Linked DNA regions of Homo sapiens. The protein of the gene in region 1 interacts with the protein of each later gene in a pairwise test. Each region holds a gene or a part of one and is shown on either strand. Other genes may lie near its edges.

Region 1 (7,018 bases):
GCAGAGGCCAGAGCTGACACCACATGGGCAAAGGAGTGGGCGTGTGGGGCTGGGAGCTGGGGCTCATGTGGGAGGCTGGTGGCTGCCATGGCTGCAGCTCCTGGCCCTGCGGACAGCCAGGCCTGGGGTCTACAAGAGCTGGGCAGGGAAGAGGACAAACAAGGTCTCACAGGTCCATTCTCCCCAGCCTCCCAGTAGGCAGCTGAGTCCAACGCAGTGCCCGAGAGCTCAGCCCTTGTCAAGGAGAGTCCTCGAACCCAGAGGGGGCTGGGTAAGCAGCAGAAGTGCAGAAGCCCTGCCCAGGCCCTGCCTCCCAGGCCACCACCCACCCCTCACGGCTGCCACACCCACCAGCCCATGACTGTCCACATCCTGACCCCTACCTACCTCATGACCTCCCCGACCCTGATCTCCACACCTGACCCCAAAGCACATTTTGTTATTTTTTGTTTTTAGAGATTAGGTCTCTCACTCTGTCACCCAGGCTGGAGTGCAGAGGCCATAACTCACTGCAGCCTCAAACTCCTGGGCTTGGGGATCCTCCCGCCTCGGCCTCCTGAGTAGCTGGGGTTACAGGCACATGCCACCACACCTGGCTCATTTTCTTTTACTTTCTGTAGAGATGGGGTCTCCCTATGTTGCCCAGGCTGGTTTCAAACTCCTGAACTAAAGTGATCCTCCTGCCGTGGCCTTCCAGAGTACTGGGATTTCAGGCAGAAGCCACCACACCCGGATCCCCAATAAGCACATTTATGTGGGGCGTGAGGTGAGGTCCCTGAGGTGCAGTGTGGACGGGTCTTGATTTGTCCCAAGTTGTCGCTGCCCTGTGCCACAGCCTCCCAAGAATGGATGCAGTCTACACCTTCTGCAAACCCCTGCCTCAAACCGTGTCCCTCCACAAGCACATCCAGCCACTGGGACCCTGAACCTCCTCCAAATGGACTTTAACTGGGGACAACTGATGACAGTCCTCCAACCCCAGCGAGCTGGGGAAGCCGTGGGCAGGGGCTGCGACTTCCTTTCTTCCAATCAACTCCACCACTAGCAATCAATCACTTGGCCCACTGGATAAGAACAGTGGCCTGCGACGTCAGGGGCAGTCCAGGTGCTCTCCATCGCATGCTCAGCCATGGCTGAGCACGAATGAAGCATATGGAAGTCACGCACAGACAGGCCCAGGGCAAGGTCTGCTCTAGACCCTCCTATGCAGGAGACAGACAACTTCCAGGACAGCGTGCCTGGGGTGCTCGCAGAAGGCCAGGCTGGCACAGGCAGGACAGGTGTTCTGTAAACCAACCCCAACGTAGAAGGGGCTGAAAGACCACCTACCCATCCTAACCCCTGAATTCACCATGCCACCCTGAAAGTATGGCCTCTCCTGGGCATCCCGAGGGATGGGAGCTCCCAGAGTGGAGGCTGCCTGTCCCGAGTGAGGACACAGGAGCGCCCTCAGGCCTGAGCACTCAGGGGTGCCACCCCAAAGATGAAGGCAGTGGTGGAAAGAGGTTCTATTAGCAGGCTGGAAGCAGCCACAGAGGTCCCAAACCATATGACGCAGCACCTGCTACCCCACGAGCCACTGGAAAACTGAGGCTGCAACTTGCAGGGGCACTGTGAGAAGACAGGGAGTGGCTCCAGCCTGGTGCTCACAGATAAAACGCGGAGGCATTTAAACAGGACCAGAGACTTTCTCGCTCTGCTCTGGCAAGCTCCAGGGCTTCCCAGGGGCCTCAGCAGCCCCAGAAACAGAGTGAAGAGACACAGCCTCACAGAGCTGTGCTGTGGTGTCTGGTACAGCGGGGCTCCACCTGAGAGGGCTTGGGGAAAAAGATTCTGAGGCTAAAACATTCAACCACTTGAGCTTCTGAGACGGGTCAGGAAGTGAAAACAAAGTGCTCGGAGGACACGGCAGTCTCCATAAAGCGTTCTGGGGGACAGGACCGAGGCAAGAGGTATGCACCAGGCAGCTGGGCCCAGCAGCTCAGAGATGAGTACGCTCTGGGCTCCCTAAAAACCTCACTCCAGCAGCGAGCCCAGGTGAGGAGGGGCTGCAGGAGGAGCAGGGCCCGAGTCCCCTGGGTGGCACAAGGGATTCCAGCCACAAGGGCTGCACCTAGAGTCAGGCTCCAGGCCTTGCTGCAGTTGGTCTGGAAGAGGGGCACCCTGAGGACACAGCCACTCACTGGGGACAAGCGCCTACCCATCAGCCCAGCACAGTCAGCACAAGAGCAGATCAAGAACGGGAAGAGCTCAGGTCCTGAAGAGCTACAGTCTGACAGGGACAAGCCATGTCCAGAGGACTCAGGAGAGCCAGCCAGGAGCTCGGCCAGCTGGCCTGCCCATGCCCTCCCCAGCTCCACCCACCCAGGATGTCCTACTGTTTCAGAGCCCTCGGGACATGTTCTAACCTCCTGTGTTGCCTCAAGCAGCTGCAATCCAGCAGTCTTGGTTAAGAGGCTCTATTAGGAGTGACACGTGAGCCCAGAAATGGCACAAAGTACATGATGTGCAGAAGTTCCCCAGACAATGAAGCAAACAGTGCGGGTGACACCACAAAGACAATGGGACACAAATGGGAACTGGGACTGTCGTTCAGCACCGAGATCTTTAAAAACTATTTGGCTTTTATAATCTTCACACATGCATTCAAAGCAAGAAACACACACTTCCAGGACATAGATAGGGCTCTGTCAGCAATGACTTTTGCCCCTGTATCTACAGAGATGTGAAAGTACGAGAAACCACAGCGAGCCAAATCCTCTCCTTCATGAGAACAGAGGTTTCAGTGGAATCAACAGCAGACGCTGGAATGCAAACTACGTGCTGACTCGGCCAAATGATATGAATTTAAGAGAGGAAAAGAATTCAAGGGCAAAGCACTGAAAATAACATAGCAAGAAAAACCTATTTAGGCCGAGTGCTGTGGCTCACACCTGTAATCCCAGCACTTTAGAAGGATGAGGAAGGAGGATCGCTTGAGGCCAAGAGTTCAAGACCAGCCTGGGCAACACAGTGAGACCCTGTCTCTACAAAAAAAATAAAAAGGCGCGGTGGTGCGTGCCTCTAGTCCCAGCTACTCAGGAGGCTGGGGCGGGAGGATCACTCAAGCCAGGGAGGTCGAGGCTGCAGTGAGCTGGGATCACACCACTTCACTCCAGCCTGGTCAACAGAGTGAGACCCTGCCTCAAGAAAAGAAAAGGACAATGCACCTATTTTATGCTCGCTGAAAGACGAGGCTAATCACTGTGGACACAGGGCGTTCTGGAATCTCAGCTGCAGGCAGTGAGTGTTGCCCGTGAAATGGAGATGCCGCAAAGCAACTACAGACATGGAGAAAATAACCACATCCTCTTACAACCGCCTCTGTGAAAACTGACCAGGACAGACAACTCCTCCCCAAAAGTATTACTAACGTGCTAACAGCTGGGGATAAGAGCACACATACTGCTAGAAATCTAAGCAGCCTGTTTTACTGTTTTCAGTGACTTACGTGCAAACCTAAGACTAATCTCTGAATGTCTGATCAAGACGTATTCATGTAAAGGCCATAAGTATGAAATTCTGGGCAACATGGTACATTGGACTCTGAGCCAAAATGCCAAAATACCACACAGGGTCCGTGTCCTCTATCCGGGTGATGAGCAGGGCCTGGTCAGCCACTCCTACTTTCTTCCCAGAAAGGAACTCTACCAAGTCAACTCTCCGTGGGGCCCCCCAACATCTTGGGGCCAGAGCCCATGGGACAGGATCTGCGGGTAACAGAGGATGGTTCCAGAGTCATTCTGCTGAATGAGGCCACAACTGAAGTGAGATGTGCGGCCTGTTCAGCCGCTAGCAGGCCAAGAACTGAGTCCCAGCTCTCGGGCCATCGGACCTCAGGCAACCGTGCTCGGGGTCCACCCAACACGGGGATGGCCGCCAGCCCAGCAGATAGAGCCTTCTGAGACGAAGCCTGTCCAGGGGCGGTGGGCATGGCCTCCTGTCGGCCTGGAGGGCAACTTCTCTCCACGTGGACAGACTGACATCTCCACCCTCTGATACTGCAATGATCAGCCAGCGAACACGAGACCAGATCGGCTCAGCCTGGCCCCCATTCCAGCCAGGGTGCGGCTCTGGCTTGTTCTAGGCTAGGGTGGACCCTTCCAAAACATTTCCTCACTTTCGGATGACACGGCAAGTGATAAAATAAAACCTGTATTGACAGGAACCTCGGGCACAGACCGTCCTGGGCACCCGAGCCACACCCGTGGGCGACCCACTCCTGGAAGGGCTCTTGAGTGTCTGCACATGCCCTCCTGCCTCAGGTGGGGTCGGGGCACAGGACCATGCCACTCCAGGGTGTGGGGAGAAACAGGGCCAGTGGCCAGGGCAGGGCAGAGAAGCCATCAGTTGTCACCTGCTGTGGATGAGCAGGGCAAGGGAGACTGAGCTGTGGCCCCACAGCCACCAGGGCCCTCCTGGAGGGCTTCAACCTTGACCACAGCCCCGAGGGCACCACGCCGCCTCCTCACCTGCTGCTGGCTCCGGAACACGGCACGCAGCGCCCGCAGCTGCCCCACTTCCTGCGCACTGAAGCATGGCTGCCGCTCCGCAAAGCGCAGGACTGCGTCAAAGGCCACGGCCGCCTGCTCCCAGGCCACCTCCTCGCCCTCACCAGGATCTCCTCTGCCGTCCTGGTCAGCTTTCGGAGTCTTTTCTGAACTCCACACAACCTCTGCTGGCGACGTGGCAGCAGGGGGCCGTCCCCCTTCTGCCTCCCTTCCCGCTACCCCCCAGCTGGCGGCCTGGCGCTGGCGAAGCTGGCCCGGGCAGGAGGAGCCTTCCTTCACAAGCTCCAGGATGTGTGCAAAGGACTTGTTGTGGGGCTTCACTGGGAAGCACTCTGCCTCCAACTCCTCCTCAGAGGAGGAGCCTTCGGCAAACGCAACCGACGGCCACAGCTTCCTCCAGGCCCGCCTGAAGACGTGGCTAGGGACTGCGTTCCAGGCACAGGCCACGCTGAATATGGCATCGTTCATGTTGTAGCGGGCGTGGGGGCCCTGCAGGGGGACCGGAGGGTTAATGAAGTTCCTCATGAAATCTCTCCGAATGCCCTGCTCCATGGGCTGCACCAATGAGGCCACGCTGGCAGGCAGGAAGATGGTGAAAACGTTACTGGACACCAGCTCGGCCTCCTGCGGGTGAGCCCGGGAGCTGTCCAGCAAGAGAACGGCTTTGCTGTCTTCCGGCAAACCTATGGTTCTGAAGTGCTCTCTCACCGAGGGCACAAAGATATGATGGAACCAATCGGAAAAAATCTCCTTGTCCACCCAGGCGTTCCCCTGGGCCTTATAGGCGACGGGCAGGTGCTGGATGCCTTTGAAAGCCCTGGGACCGCTGCACTTCCCGATGGCCAAGGGCTTGAGCCTGTGGGAGCCCGTGGCGTTGGCACACATCAGCACGGTCAGCCGGTCCTTGCCCTGCTTGGGGCCAGGCACAGCCCCGCCTTCCGGAGTGGGATTTGGCAGGCACCGCCAGAAAAGGCCGGTCTCATCAGCGTTGTAAACCTGCTCGGCGGACAGCCCGTGCTCAGCAGCCAAGCTCCTGAAAAACGCACAGAACTGCTCCGCGGCCTGGTGGTCGGCTGACTGCTTTTCACTGGATGCATCTAGCTTTTTAATGCCGTGTCTGGCCTTAAAGCGCCAAAGCCACCCTCCGGAGAACACGCAGGGCTCAGTGAGCTGCATCTGCTCGTAGAAGTCCTTGGCCTTCTCGATGAGCATGGGGCCTGACACGGGGACGCCCTCGGAGCGCTTCCCCAGGAACCACTCGTACAGGACGCGGTCCAGGTGCTCCAGCTTGGGCGTGTGCAGCGTGCGCCGCTGCTCCAGCGCCTTGTTGGAGTCGGAGCTGGCGAAGAACCGGAGCAGCTGCGCCTTGTGGGCCCTGATGTCGTAGAGGGTGGACATGCCCACATTGTACTCCTGCATCAGTGCCTTCCGGCTCTCGCCCTTCTCCAGGCGCGTGCAGATGTCAATCTTCTCCTTCAGTGTCAGCACCACCCTCTTCCGCTTCTCCCCTCTGCTCTTCCCGGCAGCCGGCTTGGAGGCCATGGGGAGGGGTGGCTGGTCCTAGCACTTGCAGGACACACGCCTGGCCTGGGCTGCTGCCACTACTTCCCTCTCCTCCTGCTCCCCTTCTGGGGCTCCGTCTCTCCCTCTCCACTCTGCCTGCCTGCTCTGCTGATCCTGAGCACAGGCCCCAGTCCCTCTCGGGTTTCTCACTCCACACGCTGCACCTCCTGCCTCAGGTATCCCTGGTCTTCCAGGCTCCACACACCTAGGCCTTGGCTCCTGGCAGTGCAGTCAGCTGCCAATTCTCTCTGTGGAGGAGGTGACCCTGTCAGACTCCCCTCTGCTGCTCCACACGGCTGGAACTCCGGCCTTCTCTGTGGATACTATGGCAGCGGCTCCCCTCAAACTGACCAGGTTTGGGGTGGTAGAGGTTTTACCGCATAAGCAGCAGGTGCCTCTCCAGGGTCCACAATGGTATCTCCAGGCACAGCACTTCAGGGGCTGGAAAGCAGAGGGAACAGAGAGGAAAGTGATGGGGCGCGCCCAGGACACACATGGCGTCCTCACGACTCTCCTCACCGGGACACTCCAGCTGAAACTCAAGGGCTGTTGAGAGGACCCATGCAAGTGCTGGCATGCACTGTGGGGAGAGGGTGGCCCCGGGAGCAGCCCAGCCTGCCCAGCCCCTGCACGTGCTGCTCAGGTGGACTCTGCCCAACTCCCACCAAGCAAACTGAAGCCATTCGCTAGGGCTGGAAACGAGACGTGGCTCTCATAGGAGCAGCCCGGCCTTTCCTGGGGAAGCGCTCAGGCAGAAGCCATCAGAGGAAGCCAGGAAGTCCGATGCTGGGCGGACCCAAGAACAAACCTCCCACCCGCCCAGCCTAAGCTTCTTGCTGTAACTGCTCGCTGGGCTACCTGAGCTTCTCAAATCCCTTATTCCTCCCTGAGGAGCAGAGGCAGGG
Region 2 (7,865 bases), on another chromosome or scaffold:
CCAGAACTTTCCTGCCGAGGGCTCTCCTCTTCGTTTTCACTCTCGGCACCTACAGAAAGAAAGGGAGTCTACAGCCCCCAGCCCCTTTCAGAACACGGGGTTTGGTCTCTCTTCCCTCCCCCGGGTGTCCCCCAGAGTCCAGGCCCCTCCCTGAGCCGGGACCACCGTCTTGCCGGGACCGCAGCCCCTTCTTGTGCCCCTCACCTCTGTGAGCATCGTTGGGGCTCTGTTCCGGACCCTGCAGATCCGGGCCCCACAGCGCAGTCTCGGGCTCCATCCCAGAGCTCAGGACTGCAGTGTTCCAGGGACCCTGCGGGGGAAGACAGCGATGAGCGCACACTGGGAGCTGATTTTGCACTTTGCTTTATTCCCCCTGAACCTCACTCCCACCCTGCCCCGCCCCATTCCTCCTTGTGTGAACTTCAGTGTCCTCCCACCCCATTTTTCTGGGCACGGGTTCTTGCTGTGGCCCCCTTCCCCTGCAGGCCTGATTCTCACTCCAGATCTTAAGCGCACAGCTAAGCAAGCAGGTGAATTTAAGAGCGTAATTAAAAACTCATCACTCATAAGCCTTTGAACCCAGGATGGGGGCTGGAGCGGTCTCTGACATCCACAGGGGAAGGAGTTTTTCACCCCATACCTCTGATGCCCAGAGGCTGGGAAACCTGTTATTTGCTAATCAGAGGAAGCTCATTAAGACTCTAATTTTCCTCTTAATGGGGCTGCTAATTGAGACCAATAAACTTTTCTGTGCCCCAGAGTGAACCGAGGCTGCCTGAGACACTTAAAGGGTTAAGAAAAAAAAACACCCCAGTTTCCCAGAGGAGACAGAGGCCCTCTAAAAGGACTGGGGCACTTCCCTGTTATCCAAGCACAGAAAGAGGGTCAGGCTGGAGGTGGGGAGAGGGGCAGTTTAAAGCTGCATCTGCAGGAACCGCCCAGAGGAAGAGAAAAAGTAAGGAGAAGGGGAGGATGGATGCTTGTGTGAACACCTGCGGCAGACCCAGTGCCTGCCATGGTGTCATTTCTCTCACCCAGTCCTCCCACAGCCTGGTGAGGAGACCCAGGAATCAGGCTGTCCATTTTACAGATTAGTACATCAATGCCTGGGGAAACCTCTCCAAGGTCAAGGCTGGGAAGTGGCAGAGCTAAGATGATAAAAGCAGGGCTCCATATCTGGCTCACCCCTGTCTCTGAGAGCACGAGGTGACCTTGGGAGTCATGTGAGACTCATGCTCATGGGAGGCTGGCAGGAGACAGGTGATGAGGACAGCTCATGGGGAGCCTGCTGGCAGTGAGAATAGGCTGGAGAAATTCCTGGGACCCAGAGGTTTCCCAGGCTAGAAAAGGAGGAGTTGGACCCAGGGACTAGGCCTGCTGGTCTGCACCCATGAGCTGGAACCATACTCCCCACCAAAGCCCTCCTATCCCCACTCCTGCCCGGACCCTCCTTCTACTCCTTTTGTCCTGCTTTCTTGAGGCTGTTTCCCAAGCCTAGCCTGGCACTGAATAGGTGCTCCAGAAACTTTGTTGAATGAATGAATGAGTGAGATGTCCCTAGCCCCTGGAACACCTGTTTGGTCTAATGCCTTTAAAGATCAGTTTGCAAGGGGATGGCAGCAAAGGAGCAGGAGTTCCAAGTGGCCCCCTGGTAAAATAAATAAATAAATAAATAAATAAATAAATAAAAACAGCCAGCTGTCACTCCAAAAATGGTGAGATGAGTTCAGGATGAGGGAATGGGGCCACAGGAACAAAGCGCTTGAAGGAGGTCCCACACCATTTACACCCTGCAGAGAATCCCTGGGTGGGGCCTGGAAACTTTGGATGGCTGTGTGAGGTGGGCGCTGTGTGCACAGGGGCAGTGGGGCAAGGGAGACATGGCAGGAGGCGCTGAGAGGTGACCAAGGTGAAGCAAGACTGGCTGCACCCTGCCAAAGAGCGGTAGGAGAGACAGAAGTTAGCGTTTAGGAAGTAAATTAATTTCTTCATCTCTGCAGCTACTTAAGCTCCGAGAATCCCCCCTCCCCGCCTGTAAGTGTCTTTGGGGTGGTGGAAGCGGAGACCTCTGCCACACTGGGGGCTGCCTGATGTCCGGTCCGGGAAGGATGCCCTGCTGTGTTTGCTCGGGACAGGTAAGAGTTTGTGGACCTCGATGGTCTCCAAAAAATTCTCCCCTAGTGGTCCAGAGTAGGAGGGAAAGGGTTAATGACAGGGCCGACACAGAGCATGGACGTGGGAAGACCGAGGGAGGCCGAGGCGCTGGGAGCCCAGGCGCCAGGCACGCCAGCCTGAGACCTCGCGATGGCCCCACTGCAGAGGGAGGGAATGAGGAGCCGCCTCCCGAGAGATGTGGGGAACGGCCCAGGGTGACCCTGACATGGAGGCGGCGGGAATGCGGCCGCCCGGCCCGGCCCCCCCACCGCTTGGCTCCGGACTTCTGCTCCCCCGGAGCCGCGACCCCCGTCCCGCTGCTGATACAGAGCCTGGGCATCCGCCCCTGCCCCGGCCCCCGGGGTCCCGGCTCCTTCCAGCACTGCCAGGCTCCTCCAGGGCTGCGCTGGCAGCGCTGGTCCCCGGCCCCGGCCGATCCCTCTTCCCAGAATCCCCAGGCTCCCCTCCCCCGCCACCGACCCCCGCGCTTCCCAGAATCCTCGGCCCTCCGCGCCCCCCGCCCGCCCCCACCCCGGCCACAGCCCCGGGCGCGGGTGGGGGGCTCAGGCCCGGGCTCCCGGCCCCCGCCTCCCGGGCCCCATTGTTCCCCGGCGGCCGTCCCGGGCACTCCAGGCCACCCCCCGGGAACCCAGGCGTCCCCAACTCACGGCTCTGGGGTCTGGGAAAAGCCGGAAGGCGGAATCCAGCCCCAGGGGACTTAACCCCTTCAGTGCCCTGCCTCGGGGGACGGACTGGGCGCCGAGGACTCTGGGGTCCTTCTCAAGGGGTGATTCCAGGCTGAGGACCCGGGGACCAGTTCAGGGTGACTGGGACGGAGCAGGAAGTGACCCCAGCTTCCCGGGCCCCTCTAGCCTGGAGTCAGAGCATCAGCTCTATGGGATTTAACCCTTTGCCTCCCGCAGCCTGGGGAAAAAAGGGGACAGCGGTGGGAGCAGGGAGGAGGCTGGGACGACGCCCCTGTCCCCGTCTCCAGTGGGAGCAGGCAGCGTGGGCATCTGGGAGAGCCCCGATGCCCGCGAGGGTCCCTGGGCTTCTGGCCGCTCTTCATTTCGCAGGGGCTCCGCCGGCCGCGCCCGGAAAGCCCTATCTCAGATTTGGCGGCTGCTGATCCCCTGAGGCCAGTCTTTGTTTGGACTAACCCTGGGATGGGGCTGGGGTGGGAGCAGGGGCTGGCAGAGCAGACCTGAGAGGGAACACCCTACGCACTAAACATGGCCTTAATGCTTGATGGAAGTCATGGCTGCAGGAGTTGGGACTGCAGGAACAAGCACAGCCGGGAAGGATTTGCAATAGCCTGTGTTCCAGCCCCTCTTCTCCAAACACCTCCCCTCAGAGGAGGAAACTGAGGCTCACGGTGGCAGGAAAGAAGCCAGTGGGGGTTCCCTGGCCAAGGAGGGAGAACCTCTTTTCTCATAGCTCAGAGGGCACCCGGCTCACAGCAGAAGAAACCTTTAAAAACCCAGGAACACTGGTGGCCTCTCAACGTCCAAGTTATCTATGCTCGCAATTTTTACAGCCTTTCTTTCTTGTCTTCCTTATCACAGTCCCATGGGATAAGGTTGCCCATCATCCCCATTTCACCGGGGAGGAAACCAAGGTGTGAGAAGCGACTGGTGTACTTAAGGCCACCTGATTCTTTCAGTTCAACACACTGCATTATTATTCCTGGGCACTGTGGTTAACACTGGGGTGGGCATACCTCTGAGATGCATGGAAATTGGGCTTTCTACCCTTGGGAAGTTTGGTATTGTGTATGTGTTACAAACACAGAGGAATCCTGGGAGCGTGCAGAGGGCTCTGTCCAGAGACTGAGAGGCTGGGGGGAAGAATAAACCAAAGGTCAGAAATTACTAAAGGCAGCTGGGTGCGGTGGCTCACGCCTGTAATCCCAACCCTTTGGGAGACCAAGGCAGGCGGATCACTTGAGGTCAGGAGTTTGAGACCAGCCTGGACAACATGGTGAAACCATGTCTCTACTAAAAATACAAAAATTAGCCAGGCGCAGTGGCTCATGCCTATAATCCCAGCACTTTGTGAGGCCGAGGCAGGCAGATCGCTTGAGCCCGGGAGGCAGAGGTTGCAATAAGCCAAGATTGAGCCACTGCACTGCAGCCTGGACGACAGAGTGAGATCCTGTCGCAAAAAAAAAAAAAAAAAGAAGGAGGGAGGGAGGGAGAGAAAGAGAGAAAAGGAAGGAAGGAAGGAAGGAAAAGAGAAAACAGGAAAGAGAAAAAATTGCTAAAGGCCAGGCCTGGTGGCTCATGCCTGTAATCCCAGCACTTTGGGAGGCTGAGGCAGAAGGGTAACTTGAGCCCAGGAGTTTGAAGGCTGGGCAACATAGTGAAACCCTGTCTCTACAAAAAACTTAAAAACAATTAGCTGGGCAGGGCGCGGTGGCTCATGCCTGTAATCCCAGCACTTTGGGAGGCCAAGGTGGGTGGATCACCTGAGGTCAGGAGTTCAAGACCAGCCTGACCAACATGGAGAAGCCCCATCTCTACTAAAATACAAAAATTAGCCCAGCGTGGTGGTGCATACCTGTAATCCCAGCTGCTTGGGACGCTGAGGCAGGAGAAGCGCTTGAACCTAGGAGGCGGAGATTGCAGTGAGCTGAGATCGTGCCATTGCACTCCAGCCTGGGCAACAAGACCAAAACTCGGTCTCAAAAAAAAAGAAAGACAACAACAACAACAAAAACAAACAATTACCCTGGCGTGGTGGTGCATCGCTATGGTCACAGCTACTTGGGCTGAGGCAGGAGAATCACTTAATTCTGGGAGGTGGAGGCTGTAGTGAGCCATGATTGCACCACTGCACTCCAGCCTGGGTGGCAGAGTGAGACCCTGTCTCAAAAAAAAAAAAAAAAGTCCGGGCAGGGCACGGTGGCTTATGCCTGTAATCCCAGCACTTTGGGAGGCCAGGGCGGGCAGATCATGAGGTCAGGAGATTGAGATCATCCTGGCTAACATGGTGAAACCCTGTCTCTACTAAAAATACAAAAAATTAGCCGGGAGTGGTGGCACATACCTGTAGTCCCAGCCACTTGGGAGGCTAAGGCAGGTGAATCTCTTGAACCTGGGAGGTGGAGGTTGCAGTGAGCCGAGATCATGCCACTGCACTCCAGCCTGGGTGACAGAGCGAGACTCTCATCTCAAAAAAAAAAAAAAAAAAGATGGTTTGGCGAGGTGGCTCACACCTGTAATCCCAGCACTTTGGGAGGCTGAGGTGGGCAGATCACTTGTGGGCAGGAGTTCAAGACCAGCCTGGCCAACATGGTGAAACTCTGTCTCTACTAAAAATACAAAAAATTAGCTGGGCATGGTGGCGTGCACCTGTAATCCCTGTTACTCAGGAGGCTGAGGCAGGAGAATCACTTAAAACCCAGGAGGTGGAGGTTGCAGTGAGTCGAGATGGCGCCACTGCACTCCAGCCTGGGCAACAAGAGCAAGACTCAGTCTCAAAATAATAATAATAATAATTTTAAAAAAAATTAGGCCGGGCGCAGTGACTCACGCCTGTAATCCCAGAACTTTGGGAGGCCGAGGCAGGCGGATCATGAGGTCAGGAGATCAAGACCATCCTGGCTAACACGGTGAAATCCAGTCTCTACTAAAAATACAAAAAATTAGCCGGGCATGGTGGCAGGCGCCTGTAGTCCCAGCTACTTGGGAGGCTGAGGCAGGAGAATGGCGTGAACCTGGGAGACGGAGCTTGCAGTGAGCCGAGATCGTGCCACTGCACTCCAGCCTGGGCGACAGAGCAAGACTCTGTCTCAAAAAACAAACAACAACAACAACAACAAAAAACACACATTAAAAATTGCCTGGCATGGTGGCTCATGCCTGTAATCCCAGCACTTTGGGAGGCTGAGGCGGGAGGATTACCTGAAGTCAGGAGTTCAAGACCAGCCTGGCCAACATGGTGAAACCCCATCTCTACTAAAAATACAAAAATTAGCTGGGGCTGGCTGGGCGCAGTGGCTCACGCCTGTAATCCCAGCACTTTGGGTTGCTGAGGCAGGCGGATCACGAGGTCAGGAGTTCGAGACCAGTCTGACCAACATGGTGAAACCCCGTCTCTACTAAAAATACAAAAATTAGTTGGGCATAGTGGCGCACACCTGTAATCCCAGCTACTCAGGAGGCTGAGGCAGGAGAATTGCTTGAACCCGGGAGGTGGAGGTTGCAGTGAGCAGAGATCGCACTACTGCACTCCAGCCTGGGTGACAGAGTGAGACTGGACATAGTGGCATGCACCTGTAGTCCTAGCTACTCTGGAGGCTGAGGCATGAGAATTGCTTGAACCCAGTTGGTAGAGGTTGCAGTCAGCTGAGATCATGCCACTGCACTCCACCCTGGGTGACATAGTAAGACTCTATCTCAAAAAGAAAAAAAAATTAAAAATTGAATTTCTTGCTTCTTTATTGATTGATTGATTGATTGAGACAGAGTCTCGCACTGTCACCCAGGCTAGAGTGCAGTGGTGCAATCTTGGCTCACTGCAAGCTCTGCCTCCCGGGTTCACACCATTCTCCTGCCTCAGTCTTCTGAGTACCTGGGACTGCAGGCGCCTACCACCACAACCAGCTAATTTTTTTGTATTTTTAGTAGAGACAGGGTTTCACTGTGTTAGCCAGGATGGTCTCAATCTCCTGACGCTGTGATCTGCCCACCTCAGCCTCCCAAAGTGCTGGGATTACAGGCCTGAGCCACCGCGCCTGGCCTGAATTTCCTGCTTCTTTGGAAAATCCAAAGATGTGGCAACGTGATCCACATTTTCACATGTCAGTAACTGGCTGTTGCTGGGCAGCTTGCGTCTTTACAGGGCACTGACCTGCCAGCTGGTCACCATCCCTGTCATTCCTCTGTGTCCCCAACCCTGAGGCCAAGGTGGCTTCATTATATGAATGGTCCTTCACTGCTGATGTTCCAACTCCCGTTTAACTGTAGGTATAGATTCTGGACCCCTTAGTCTGTGTCTCCAAGGTTCAGAGTAATTTTTTATTTTTAGAGACAGTGTCTTGCTGTCACCCAGGCTGGAGTGCAGTGGCACGATCATAGCTCACAGCAGCCTTGAATTTCTACGCTCAAGCAATCCTCCCACCTTAGCCTCTCAAGTAGCTGAAGCTACAGGTGCGTGCCACCATGCCTGGCTAACTTAATTTAAAATTTTTTTGTTCCTCACAAAACTTCTTCCTGAATAATTTTTTAAATATTTTTATAGAAATAGGATCTCACTATATTGCCCAGGCTGGTCTCAAACTCCTGGATTCAAGCAGTCCTCCCATCTTCACCCCGCAAAGTGCTGAGATGATGGGCATAAGCCACCACGCCCAGCTCCAGAGTAACACATGAGGATGGTGCCTGCTGACATAGTTACATTTATTGAGCACTTATGCACTAGGCACTGTGTTTGCATGTAATGACTCCTTAAACCTCCACAACTCATGGCACCATTATTATTATCATCCTGGGACAGAAAGGGTAAGTCACTTGCACACAGGTCACCAGTGGCAGGAGTGGATTTAAATCCACGCACGGTGACTTCAGAGCCACCGTGGATCCTAAACACGTCTCTCCTGCTCAGATGGGCCCAAGCGTGTCTGGGACCCAAGGGTGAGCCTCTCAGTCCCTCCGTCTTCTCCCTCAGAGTTGGAGAGAGGAGCTGGGAAGGGCAGGGCACCCCCATTT

What was found. The genes of interacting proteins can lie anywhere in the genome.
Region 2: the proteins of JRK (region 1) and ZNF629 interact in binary tests that used the Homo sapiens proteins (3 or more experiments, as listed by UniProt).

What each region holds. Positions count from the first base shown.
Region 1 is NC_000008.11:142,659,967-142,666,984, forward strand, and holds part of JRK (jerky protein homolog), read right to left. Parts: intron 6,555-7,018; 5' UTR 6,093-6,554; coding exon 4,386-6,092; 3' UTR 1-4,385. UniProt on the Homo sapiens protein: May bind DNA.
Region 2 is NC_000016.10:30,784,206-30,792,070, forward strand, and holds the start of ZNF629 (zinc finger protein 629), read right to left. Parts: upstream 3,001-7,865; 5' UTR 2,823-3,000; intron 311-2,822; 5' UTR 278-310; coding exon 205-277; intron 69-204; coding exon of another isoform or gene 50-68; coding exon 1-49. UniProt on the Homo sapiens protein: May be involved in transcriptional regulation.